Homo sapiens: one gene and its partners. The protein of the gene in region 3 interacts with the protein of the main gene of each other region in a pairwise test. Each region holds a gene or a part of one and is shown on either strand. Other genes may lie near its edges. The genes, in order: CEP76, CD160 and THRA.

Region 1 (3,751 bases), on a different chromosome or scaffold from region 3:
CTGTAGTCCCAGCTACTTGGGAGGCTGAGGCAGGAGAATCACTTGAATCTGGGAGGTGGAGGTTGCAGTGAGCCAAGATCGCACCACTGCACTCAACCCTGGGTGACTGAGACTCTGTCTCACAACAACAACAAAAAAAAGTTCTTTACTTTACTTTCAGTGCTGGATACATTAGAAATTTTTTTGGCCTGGATATGTATATTAACGTTTTGATTTATAACTATTGTTTTTATAATTAGATTGACTGTTTTACACTGTTGTTGTTTAATTTCAGAACTAGTCAAATACAGGAAGCAGCAAGAAACAGTTCTGAGGAATCTAAATTAAATCAGCATTTTATTTACTCTATGTATATGGAAAGAGGTGGCATAAACCAAAAAGGCACCAGTTGAAACTCCAATTTGACACAGACTTTGCCATGACTGAGTTGCTGTTTGGCCTTGAAAAGACTGTTCACTTCTCTAACCTTCATACTGTTTACAAAAAGAGCCAATGCCTGGCCACTTGACAATCTTATATGGTTACTATGAGACTAAATTACGTTCTATGGTTCAAATCTTAAAATGAATTCTGAGAGAGGAAGTCGTTTAAGTAATATTTCCTAAAAGAAAATCCCACTTCCTTGACTTCCTTAGTGCATTTCAACTTCTTCCTCCTCTTTGATCCTGCCATTTCTCTGATTCACTGCCTCACTCCATCCTGAGTCCTCTCTAGTTCCTAATTCCACGTGGCAATGAATAAATGCCTCAGACTATATAGACAGCAGGGAGCCAGTTTATATATATATATATGTATATTTTTTGTCGTTGTTATTGTTTTGAGACAGAGTCTCACTCTGTTGCCCAGGCTGGAGTGCAATGGCGTGATCTTCGCTCACTGCAACCTCCGCCTCCCGGGTTAAGCAATTCTCCTGCCTCAGCCTCCTGACTAACTGGGATTATAGGTGCCTGCCACCAAGCCTGGCTAATTTTTGTATTTTTAGTAGAGACAAGGTTTCGCCATGTTGGCCAGGCTGGTCTCAAACCCCTGACCTCAGAGGATCCACCTGCCTCGGCCTCCCCAAGTGCTGGGATTACAGGCGTGAGCCACCGCGCCCGGCCAGGAAGCCAGTTACATTTTGATTGGTTTCTCCTTGCCTTTGTCCTGATAATGTTGTTACCTTGCCAACCAGTCATTCAATATATAAACAACGCTATCAGAAAGTCAGAAGCCATTTCCCTTATTCCCACCTCTAGTCAACCTCTCATTCCCAAGCTCCCCATCTGGACACTAAACCACTTTTAGCCTGTTCCAAAATCTAGGGAAAGTAGGGTAAAGCTGGATGAATGTACAGGATTTGAGAAACTTAACTTAAAATAATATACTACACTATACTTATATGAAAGCATCTGTATGAGGCTGAATATATACAAAATATTTGAACTGTTCCTTAGGAGTTACAAAAAATACGTGAACCTGACCACATTTTTTGTTGTTTTTTTTTTTGAGACGGAGTCTTGCTGTGTTGCCCAGGCCGGACTGCAGTGGTGCGATCTCGGCTCACTGCAAGCTCCGCCTCCCGGGTTCACGCCATTCTCCTGCCTCAGCCTCCCGAGTAGCTGCGACTATAGGAGCCCGCCATCACGCCCGGCTAATTTTTTGTGTTTTTAGTAGAAACGGGGTTTCACCGTGTTAGCCAGGATGGTCTCGATCTCCTGACCTCTTGATCCACCCACCTCGGCCTCCCCAAGTGCTGGGATTACAGGCGTGAGCCACCGCGCCTAGCTGACCTGACCATATATTTTATATTGGTCTGTTAAAGAGAGAAAATGGGTTTAGGACTCAGGAAAAATGGAGGCAGAGATATATAGTTGAAATGCTTCAGTTAAACATTACTGGTCACTGGCTTAGAAGTCGTGGTTATATACAATTTTTTTTAAAACCCTAACAAAAAATATATATATGCCCAGAGCCCCCCCCCGTTCTGCACACAAGAGCTGGATTTACATATAACCTGCAAAGTGTCCAAATGGTTAATTATTTAGCACTAAGTATCAAGCAAATACACATTCCAAGTTAAACAAAATGGATTTTCATCTACTTTAAATCAAATATATTCAGAAAGGGTTTAAAACACAATAATTGATTCAACCTGAGAAAGGTGATTTTTCAAAAACCCACAATAACTGAAATTGAAAGTAAAATAAGACATAGATTGATCTTGCCACTCACTATGCAGTGAAAGAGAATATTACAAAATCAGCATTTTATTTTACAAATACACTTTTATTTTTTGGAATACATTTTACAAATAAATATTAAATGAAATTTACACACATAACAGTAAATCTCAAATACAGGCATAAAATTATTCTAATATAATTTACAAACCTGTGCAAAAATCTTAACCAGTCGTGAGTTGTGTGAGGGTCGAATTTGCAAATATTCTCTCCACCACTGCTTAGCATATACAAGAAATAATCGCTCTTTCTCTGCAGTTTTCTGACGTTCCAAAGCAAGCTTGAAATTGAAAAAAATATTTTTCAATTTCTATTCATTATCTTTAATTACTACAAAATATGTAGCAAATTTATCTACTTCTCTACATCATTACCACCCTAATCTGAGTCATCATCATCTTCTATAAGAGCCTCCTGACTTCCCTATTTCTACACTTACCCCTAGTACAATCCCATCTCCATACAATAATCATAAGTCACCTTTTTTTCCTCAAAGACAGAATTTTTTTTTTTTTTTTGGTTGTGGAGGATGCAGTCTTGCTCTGTCGCCCAGGCTGGAGTGCAGTGGCAAGATCTCAGCTCACTGCAACCTCTGCCTCCCATGTTCAAGCAATTCTCCTGCCTCAGCCTCCTGAGTAGCTGGGACTACAGGCACGTGCCACCACACTCAGCTAAATTTTTTTTTGTATTTTTAGTAGAGACAGGGTTTCACCACATTGGTCAAGCTAGTCTTGAACTCCTGAGCTCATGATCCGCCCGCCTTGGCCTCCCAAAGTGCTGGGATTACCGCGCCTGGCCCAGAAATTTTTAAATAGTAAATCATACAAGCCGGGCATGGTGGCTCACGCCTGTAATCACAACATTTTGGGAGGCCAAGGCAGGTGGATCATTTGAGGTCAGGGGTTCGAGACCAGCCTGGCCAACATGGTGAAACCCCATCTCAACTAAAAATACAAAAACTAGCTGGGGATGGTGGTACATGCCTGTAATCCCAGCTACTCGGGAGGCTGAGGCAGGAGAATTGCTTGAACCCGGGAGGCAGAGGTTGCAGTGAGCCGAGTTCATGCCACCGTGCTCCACCCTGGGCGATAGAGTGAGACTCTATCTCAAAAAAAAAAAAAACATACTGTCATTCTCTTGTTAAAACACTTCATTCTCCATCACATTGCAAAATACCTGCCCTGGCCTATGAACTCTGGCCCGACTATCTCATTTTCTCCTCTCTCCCCAACCCACTACGCTCTAGCCACACAGGGCTTTCGGTCCTCCATAGGGGCTTTTGTTCTAGGCTGTTCCCAGTGCTGGAAGCTCAGCCCCAATCTTTGCATGGCTGGTTACTTCCTGTTGTTCAGACTCTTTCCCTACCTTAGTCACTCGACCTATAATTAGCCACCCAATAACCACTGTATCATATCACCTGTAATAATTCTCCATAAAACACCTTCTACTATCTGATTATTTTGTTTGCTGACTTATTGTTTCTCCTGCACTAGAATCTAAACTCCTTGAGAGCAAGCTGTCTAGCTGTCTGC
Region 2 (3,751 bases), on a different chromosome or scaffold from region 3:
CACGCCACTGCTCTCCAGCCCGGACCACAGAGTGAGAGTCTGTCTCAAAAAATCAAAGAAAAAGAAAAAAAAAAGTAAGATAGTTGTAAGTTCATGGAGAAGTAAGATAGTTGTAAAAGTTCATAGAGAATAATAGCAGTGCCCTTTTGTCCTCCTAGGCTTATTGTCTGAGACAACCACTGTCAACTCTTCGAGATGTCTTATTATATTCCTAAATAATATGCTCATATTGCTGCTTCCTAGTGATAAAATTTAGACATTTTCTATTGGCTTTCTGCTACAGTAGATGAAGATGTGCTAGAATATAGTAGATGAGGATTATACTTTCACCCATTTTCCTTCTCTGCATTCTTCTAAAAATAATTGTACCACAAATTTTATTTAAATTAGTCATGTTTACATAATTTGGATTCTGTGTTATTTTTTGCAAAATCAAGTTGTGCGCTATGTTTCTTTTGTAAAATTTAGTTTTTTCTAGAGCCTGATTTTATTTTTTTACTGGCAGAGTTTTCCATATCCATTTCTTTAATCTTTTTATTGGGTCTTTAATGGGCCTTTAGAAAGATGATATGTCGATTCCATTTTTACCTCCTAGAGATCTCCCTTCCAGAGTCGTCTTTCTCTTGCTCTCTTCTGGACTAACTGCCCTTTTTTAATTCTTGAATTTCCTTTTTTTTTTCTTTTCCACTAGAGATGGTGTCTCCCTGTGTTGCCCAGGCTTATCTCTAACTCCTGGGCTCAAGTGATCCTCCCACCTTGGCCTCCAAAAGTGCTGGCATGAGCCACTGTGTCCAGCCTAGAACTTCCTTGTTAGACTCCTTGTTTCCTGTATGTCATTTTATCCCCTTTATGGATTCACTTTCTTGTTTTACTGAAGCACATCCTCTGGTAGCTTCTTTGAAAAGATCACATGGAAGGCAAATTTTTTTGAGTCATTGCATCTCATGATAGTGTCTTTTTTCTTTCCTTACATTTGGTTTATAGTTTGGCTGAATATATAATTCTAGGTAAATTTTTTTTTTCCCACAGAATTTTGAAGGCTTGCTCTATTGTCTAGGAATATAGTTACACAGAGAGACACTTTCTGTTGGGCACAATTTGACTTAAGGAAGCCACTTAAAGCTGGGGCTGGAGTGGCCATATTTAGGATATGCCAAAGTAGTAATGGAGCAGGGGGAGCATGCATAGAGTGAAAGACAGATGCAGAAGCCAGAGGCCTTGCTGCCTCACAGTTTGAAACGGTAACTGTTTTGCGTCCTGTCCCCTTTCTAGTTTCTGATTCCAGGAGCTAGAACTCATGAGGGCCAGCTGTACTTTTTTATTTTTTCCTCCTTTAATCTATGGTACTTTGAATTGGTTTCTGTTTCCTCCAACTAAATGCTCCTTAAGACAGACACCCATATTATCTCAAACCTAATCTCGTTGTCTGCCTGAATTTAGAAATATAGCCACATTTCTGGGAGAGTTCTGAATTGGGAATCAGGAGGCCTAATTTCTTTCTTTTCTTTTCTTGTTTTTTATTTTTTTGAGACACAGTTTCGCTCTAGTTGCCCAAGATAGAGTGCAATGGCACAATCTCGGCTCACTGCAACCTCCGCCTCCCAGGTTCAAGCGATTCTCTTGCCTTAGCCTCCTGAGTAGCTGGGATTACAGGCATGCGCCACCACACCCGGCTAATTTTGTATTTTTAGTAGAGACAGGGTTTCTCCATGTTGGCTAGGCTGATCTTTAACTCCTGACCTCGGGTGATCTGCCTACCTCAGCCTCCCAAAATGCTGGGATTACAGGCATGAGCCACCATGCCTGGCCAGGAAGCCTAATTTCTATCTGTTTTTACTTTCACCAGTGAGTAGCACTGGACAAGTCTCTTCAACCCCTGTGTCACCATCTCCCTGTCAGTAAAAATGCAATGGCCACCCCAAGTAAGAGTTCTAAAATTAAAGACAAAATGAGATTATGTTTGTGTGTGCGCTTTGAAGAAAGGCAGCATCTGCCAATGGGGATGTTGGAAAAGGATTGAGGAAGAAGGAAACTGCCTTTCCAGGACCTGAACTATCTGGTTACATCTCCACTGTCAACCCTGCTCACTGTCCCACCTGGTGGCATTAGGAGTATTTGAGCACTCACCTGTGAATAGAATGGAGAAAAAATGGCCCTGAAGGCGGATACCTGACTTCTGGCTTCTGGCACAACACTGGTAGGTCCCACTGTGCAACGGTGTGACTTGGCTTATGGTGAACATCAACTGAGATGATATTTCACCAACACCATCTATCCCAGGATCCCTTTTAAGTCTCAGCTGTTTTAAACTGGTCTCAGGAGAACAGTCTCCAGACCTGTCCTTGCACAAAAACACTACAAACCCCTCAGCCTCTTCTTTCTTATGCCATACAGTACAGATTAAGTTTAGTCGCGTTCCTTCCTGGGAAGCTGAGCTGGTGATGTTAATGCATCCTGGAATGGAAAGGGAAGAATTACCCAGAGGTCAGGTAGCATTCTGTGAATTTCACCGTAACTGCTCCTTATCACTAGAAGTCTTCAAGGAAGGACTGAAGCAGAACCTGGCAGTAGTGCTGGCAGACAGGAAATACAAATTCCAGCTCTATCGATGGCTGTGTGACTGTAAGCAAGTTACCTAACTCCTTGGGCAGTAGTTTATTCATCTGGAAAATGAAAATTAAGGGACTAAATAATATGCTCAAAGCATCCATTAATTCATAGGTTTATTTGTTCCTCCACTTAACAAATACGTTTAGGTATTCACTCTGCCAAGCCCTGCTGGGGCTATGAGGACTAGGACGTGAGCCCTACTGTCAGAACTTTTTTTTCCCCTAACCATTAGATGACCGGGGATTTTTAATTTAAAAAATTTTTTTTTAAAACAAGGTCTTGCTGTGTCACCCAGGCTGGAGGGCAGTGGCACAATCGTAACTCACTGCACCTTTGAACTCCTGGGCTCAAGCAATCCTCCTGCTTCCGCCTTCCGAATAGCTAACACTACAGGTATGCACCACTATGCCTGGCTAATTTTTTATTTTGTAGAGACAGATTCTCACTATGTTGTCCAGGCTAGTCTTGAACTCTAGGCATCAAGCAACCCTCCTGCCTCTGCCTCCCAAACTGCTGGGATTACAGGCATGAACCACTGTGCCTGGCCACTCTCAGAGTTTAAAGCCTAATGTAAAAACAAATTAGCAAAAAGTTACAATTTAATTCCACAGTTATTATAATTGAGGAATCTTAGAGATTCCTGAGTCTGAAGCATCAGGGAAACTTCACAGTGAAGTTAGTGCTGGAGCTGACTTGAAGGATGAGTAAAAGTTTTTCTAAGAAATATAGGATGAGAGAGACCACAGAAATACCAGAGATGATTAAAAACAGCCACTGTGTGGAAATGGAGTGAGAATGGACTGGAGAAACAGACTAATTATTGAGGGACCATTGATATCCAAAGACCATGACTCTGATGGTGCCAGTCTGCCCACTTGATTTTCCCTGTAAGTAATCTGTAACCTGGATACAGAAGTGGAGAAAATAGTTGGGTTAACCCAGGATGTTTTGGCTCGATGGGTGTCTCTGACCTAATTTTGCAATGCATTGGCCCTGCCAACTTTGTACTGCCCCTCACTCTCCTCAAACTTCACTTCCTTCTGTAGTTTATATTTTGTAGTCCATTATTATAATCTCTCCCTTATATCCACCCTCAGCTCCCTTAGCTTTACTCCTACTGTGATGGATCCTCGCAAAACCC
Region 3 (3,751 bases):
CTGGGCACGGCACATTCTCCCCACCCTCCCCCAGCAGCCAGCGGGTAATTGGAGCTGGGAGCTGGGGCAGCTGAATGCTGGAGGCATGAATGTCACGGGGCCAAGGCACTTGCTGCAGATGGCACCATGGGCACAAGGCTTGGGGTCCTCCCTCCTCACTCCCTCATCTAAGGCAGTAGAAGAAGTTGCCTGCAAGCCCTGAAGAGCATGGCCTAGGAGGGGAGGGAATGGTGGAGGGGGAAAGAAAGGGAGGGATGTTCTCCCAGGCACCCCAGAGGCTGGAGCTAGCCCCTAACCAAGCAGAACTGGCAGAGGCAGAGAGAGAGAGACAGAGACAGAGACAGAGAGACAGGGACAGAAAGGGAGGAGGGAGGGAATAGGAAGGAGGGAGGAAGGGGGAGGGAAGAGAGAAAGATTGAGAGTGTGTGTGTGAGAGAGAGAGAGGGAGGGAGAGAAGGAGGGAGAGACAGAGAGGGGGAGGGGGAGAGAGAGAGGGAGAGGGAAGAGGAAGGGAGGGAGGGAGAGAGAGAGGGAGGGAGAGAGGGAGGGAGAGAGCGCGCGCGTGAATGCAGCTGAGTCTCCGGCACACACACGGACACGTGCAGACACACACACTCACCCCGCATGCGCAGAGCCACAGGGCTCTGGGTACCGTTCCAGGAGATATTCAGAGCCCTCCCCAGCCCACACATGCACAAAAACACTCTCACATGGATGCGTGCACAACACACCCACTCACTGATGTGTACAAAAATGCCGAAAGACACCAAAGCCTCGGTTCCCCTGTTTCCCCACCCCCATGCCTGGTAAAAGAGAAAAAGAAACAGGCAGCTGGGGCTCTGGGAGCCAAGAGCCGATCTCTTCTTTAGAAGAGGAAAAGAGGAGGAGGAGGAGGTGGGCCAGGGGCTTGGTCCAATCATTCTGCTCTTGGCCACTGCTGAGGGGCATGGCTGAGGCTTTGGTATCAACCTTTAATGCCCACCCCCAAAACAGCGAAGCAAGGATAGTATTTCCTGGGCACCAGTAACACCCATCTTGCTTCCCTTGTCTACCCAGCAAACTTCTGACCCTCCCTCTGGACCACCTCACGCAATGGCATACCGGAGGGAGGTCCCTATGACCCCAGCTTTGGCCTGCCAAGTGACACCAAGGTGGAACCACATGTGCCCCCACCACACACCAGCCCCAGATACTTCAGTGAGAGACTGAGAACTGTCTCTGGTTCCAGGCAGCATGTGTATGCCCCACCCTGGCATGTGCCAGGCCCTGGGAAAAAAGGAGAATCCACAGGCATTGCTCACCATGCCAGGATGCAACATGGATTGAACACAGGGGTCATCCCACCTTGTGTTATTTGCCCTCAACCTGAGTGAGACAGGAACCATTGTCTCTAGATAATGAAAACCCAGGCCCAAAGTCATACGACTAGTGAATGTCAACAGCCAGGCCTCCCAACTCCCAGCCAGTGATCTTCCCACCACGGTCATGCTTGCCTCCCTCCCCAAGAGACACAACAGTTCTCCAAAGTCCCCTAGACACCTTTGCAGCCATGAGAACTAGAGTTGGGTTTTTTGTTTTGTTTTCTGTCTGTTTTGAGAGGATGTGTGTGTGGGGGGTCTCACTCTGTTGTTCAGGCTAGAGTGCAGTGGCACAATCACAGCTCACCGCAGCCTCGACCTTCCAGGCTTAAGCGATCCTCCGGCCTCAGCCTCCCAAGTAGCTGGTAACACAGGCATGCGCCACCACACCTGGCTAACTTTTTAAAGTTGTTTTTAGAGATGGGGTCTCACTATGTTGACCAGGCTGATCATGAACTACTGGCCTCAAGTGATCCTCCCGCCTTGGCCTCCCAAAATATTGAGATTACAGGCATGAGCCACTGTGCCCAGCCGAGAACTAGAGTTGAGATTGGTTCCCACTCCAAAGGCTTCCCGTCACCCCTACAGGGTATCCTCCCATTGTCCTTCCTTCACCTTGAGGGGCAGGGCTAAATAAAAGGGGTTTGGAGAGGGGATCCTGATCACCAGACTCACAAAGGCAAAGAGGCAACCCAGGACAGATGCTGGATCTCAAAGTGCTGTGCCCACCACACTGGTCATTACTCAGTGCTTCAGTTTCTCTCTGCCACCACCTTTCACACTAAGTACCACTCCATGGAGGGCAGGGGAATCTGGTGCCTATCAGCCAGAGCTGGGTCCTGGTTGACCAATGCTGGGCTCCCAGGAGGGAGGAAGGGCACTGCCTCCTCTTTGAGCCCACACATAAGAGAGGGGACGGCTTTCCTTGTTCTCTCTCTCCCACCCCCAGAGCTCAGACCCTGAACAGAGATGCAGTGATGCCCAAAGATTTATGCAGGTGCCCCTAGCTGGTGGGGTGTGTCCCAGGCTGAGGGGCCAAGGGCTCCTTGTAAGCTGAAGGGCGAGGGTCAAAGGAGGGTGGGGCAGAGGGGCCTGCCTTGGGCTCTTTCCCATACACTCATTCCAGGCTGCAAAAATTTGTCTGGGAGGAAAAGATTACATGACGGTGAGAAGGCTGGAAATTGGAGACCCACTGCCCCAGGCCCCAGTCTCACTGATGTCTAGGAGACCCAATTCTCCACGAAGCTTCTCTAAGAAATCTGGGAGACCCCAGGCCCACAGCTTCCTTCACCCATCACAACCGCTCACATATACAGTTTGTTATGAACTAGGCACTTTTAAAAACATTTTTCCTCAAAAAAGCTAAATGAGGTAGATATGATCATCCCCAATTTACAGATGAGGCAACGGGGAAGTTAAATCGCTTGCTCAAAGTCACACATCCAGCAAGTGACAGAGCTGGGATTCAGACCTAGGCAGTCCAGGTCAATCATGGCCGTCATGATCATCACCATCATCTCTGTTCTTAGCTGTGATGGTATATCACCTGCTTGATAGATAATGCCTTGTTCTTTTTTGTTTTTCTTTTTTTTTTTTTTTTTTTTTGAGACGGAGTCTCGCTCTGTCACCCAGTCTGTAGTGCAGTGGTACAATCTCAGCTCACTGCAACCTCCACCTCCTGGGTTCAAGCGATTCTCCTGCCTCAGCCTCCTGAGTAGCTGGGATTACAGGACCCCGCCACCACACCCAGCTAAGTTTTGTATTTTTAGTAGAGATGGGGTTTCACCATCTTGGTCAGACTGGTCTTGAACTCCTGACCTCAGGTGATCTGCCTGCCTCCGCCTCCCAGTGTGCTAGGATTACGGGTGTGAGCCACTGTGCCCGGCCCAATGCCTTGTTCTTTCATCCAGCTATGTGTTCCCTGAGACCAAGCCTCAGTCTTTCCCCTCTGTAGCTGCCCTGTGGGTTCTCTGCCAAGTGCCTCCACCTCCAAATAGTCCAAGGCTAGAGGGGAGCATAGCGAGAAGTGCTTGGTGCCCCCGGGCTCGATGTCTCCTGCCTGAGTTCCCCCTCCTCAAATTCCCTCTCCAGAAGAGGTACCCCTTCTAGGCTGGAACCTGCACTCACGGGTGGGAGGGCCTCGCTTAGTACATACTTAGTCTAGGCAGCTGTGCCCTCAGAACCAGGCCCTGAGGCTGGGCAAAAAGGACACAGCTGTTGGGCATCTCTGAGGTGGGCCTCAGCTGCCAGGGGTGTGGAGAAAGGCCATTGTGAGCCCTGCAGTGGACCCAACTCAGCAGGGTCCTGCCAGCTCCCGCCACTGCCCATGGGGGCGGTTCTTTTCCAGCTTGGGCCAGTGTGGGGGGAGCCTCTTCATGGCTTGTTTAAGAGCT

What was found.
Region 1: the proteins of THRA (region 3) and CEP76 interact in binary tests that used the Homo sapiens proteins (3 or more experiments, as listed by UniProt).
Region 2: the proteins of THRA (region 3) and CD160 interact in binary tests that used the Homo sapiens proteins (3 or more experiments, as listed by UniProt).

Annotation. Positions count from the first base shown.
Region 1 is NC_000018.10:12,688,989-12,692,739, forward strand, and holds part of CEP76 (centrosomal protein of 76 kDa), read right to left. Parts: intron 2,500-3,751; coding exon 2,371-2,499; intron 1-2,370. UniProt on the Homo sapiens protein: Centrosomal protein involved in regulation of centriole duplication. Required to limit centriole duplication to once per cell cycle by preventing centriole reduplication.
Region 2 is NC_000001.11:145,729,447-145,733,197, reverse strand, and holds part of CD160 (CD160 antigen precursor), read right to left. Parts: intron 2,455-3,751; coding exon 2,128-2,454; intron 1-2,127.
Region 3 is NC_000017.11:40,065,876-40,069,626, reverse strand, and holds part of THRA (thyroid hormone receptor alpha), read right to left. Parts: intron 1-3,751.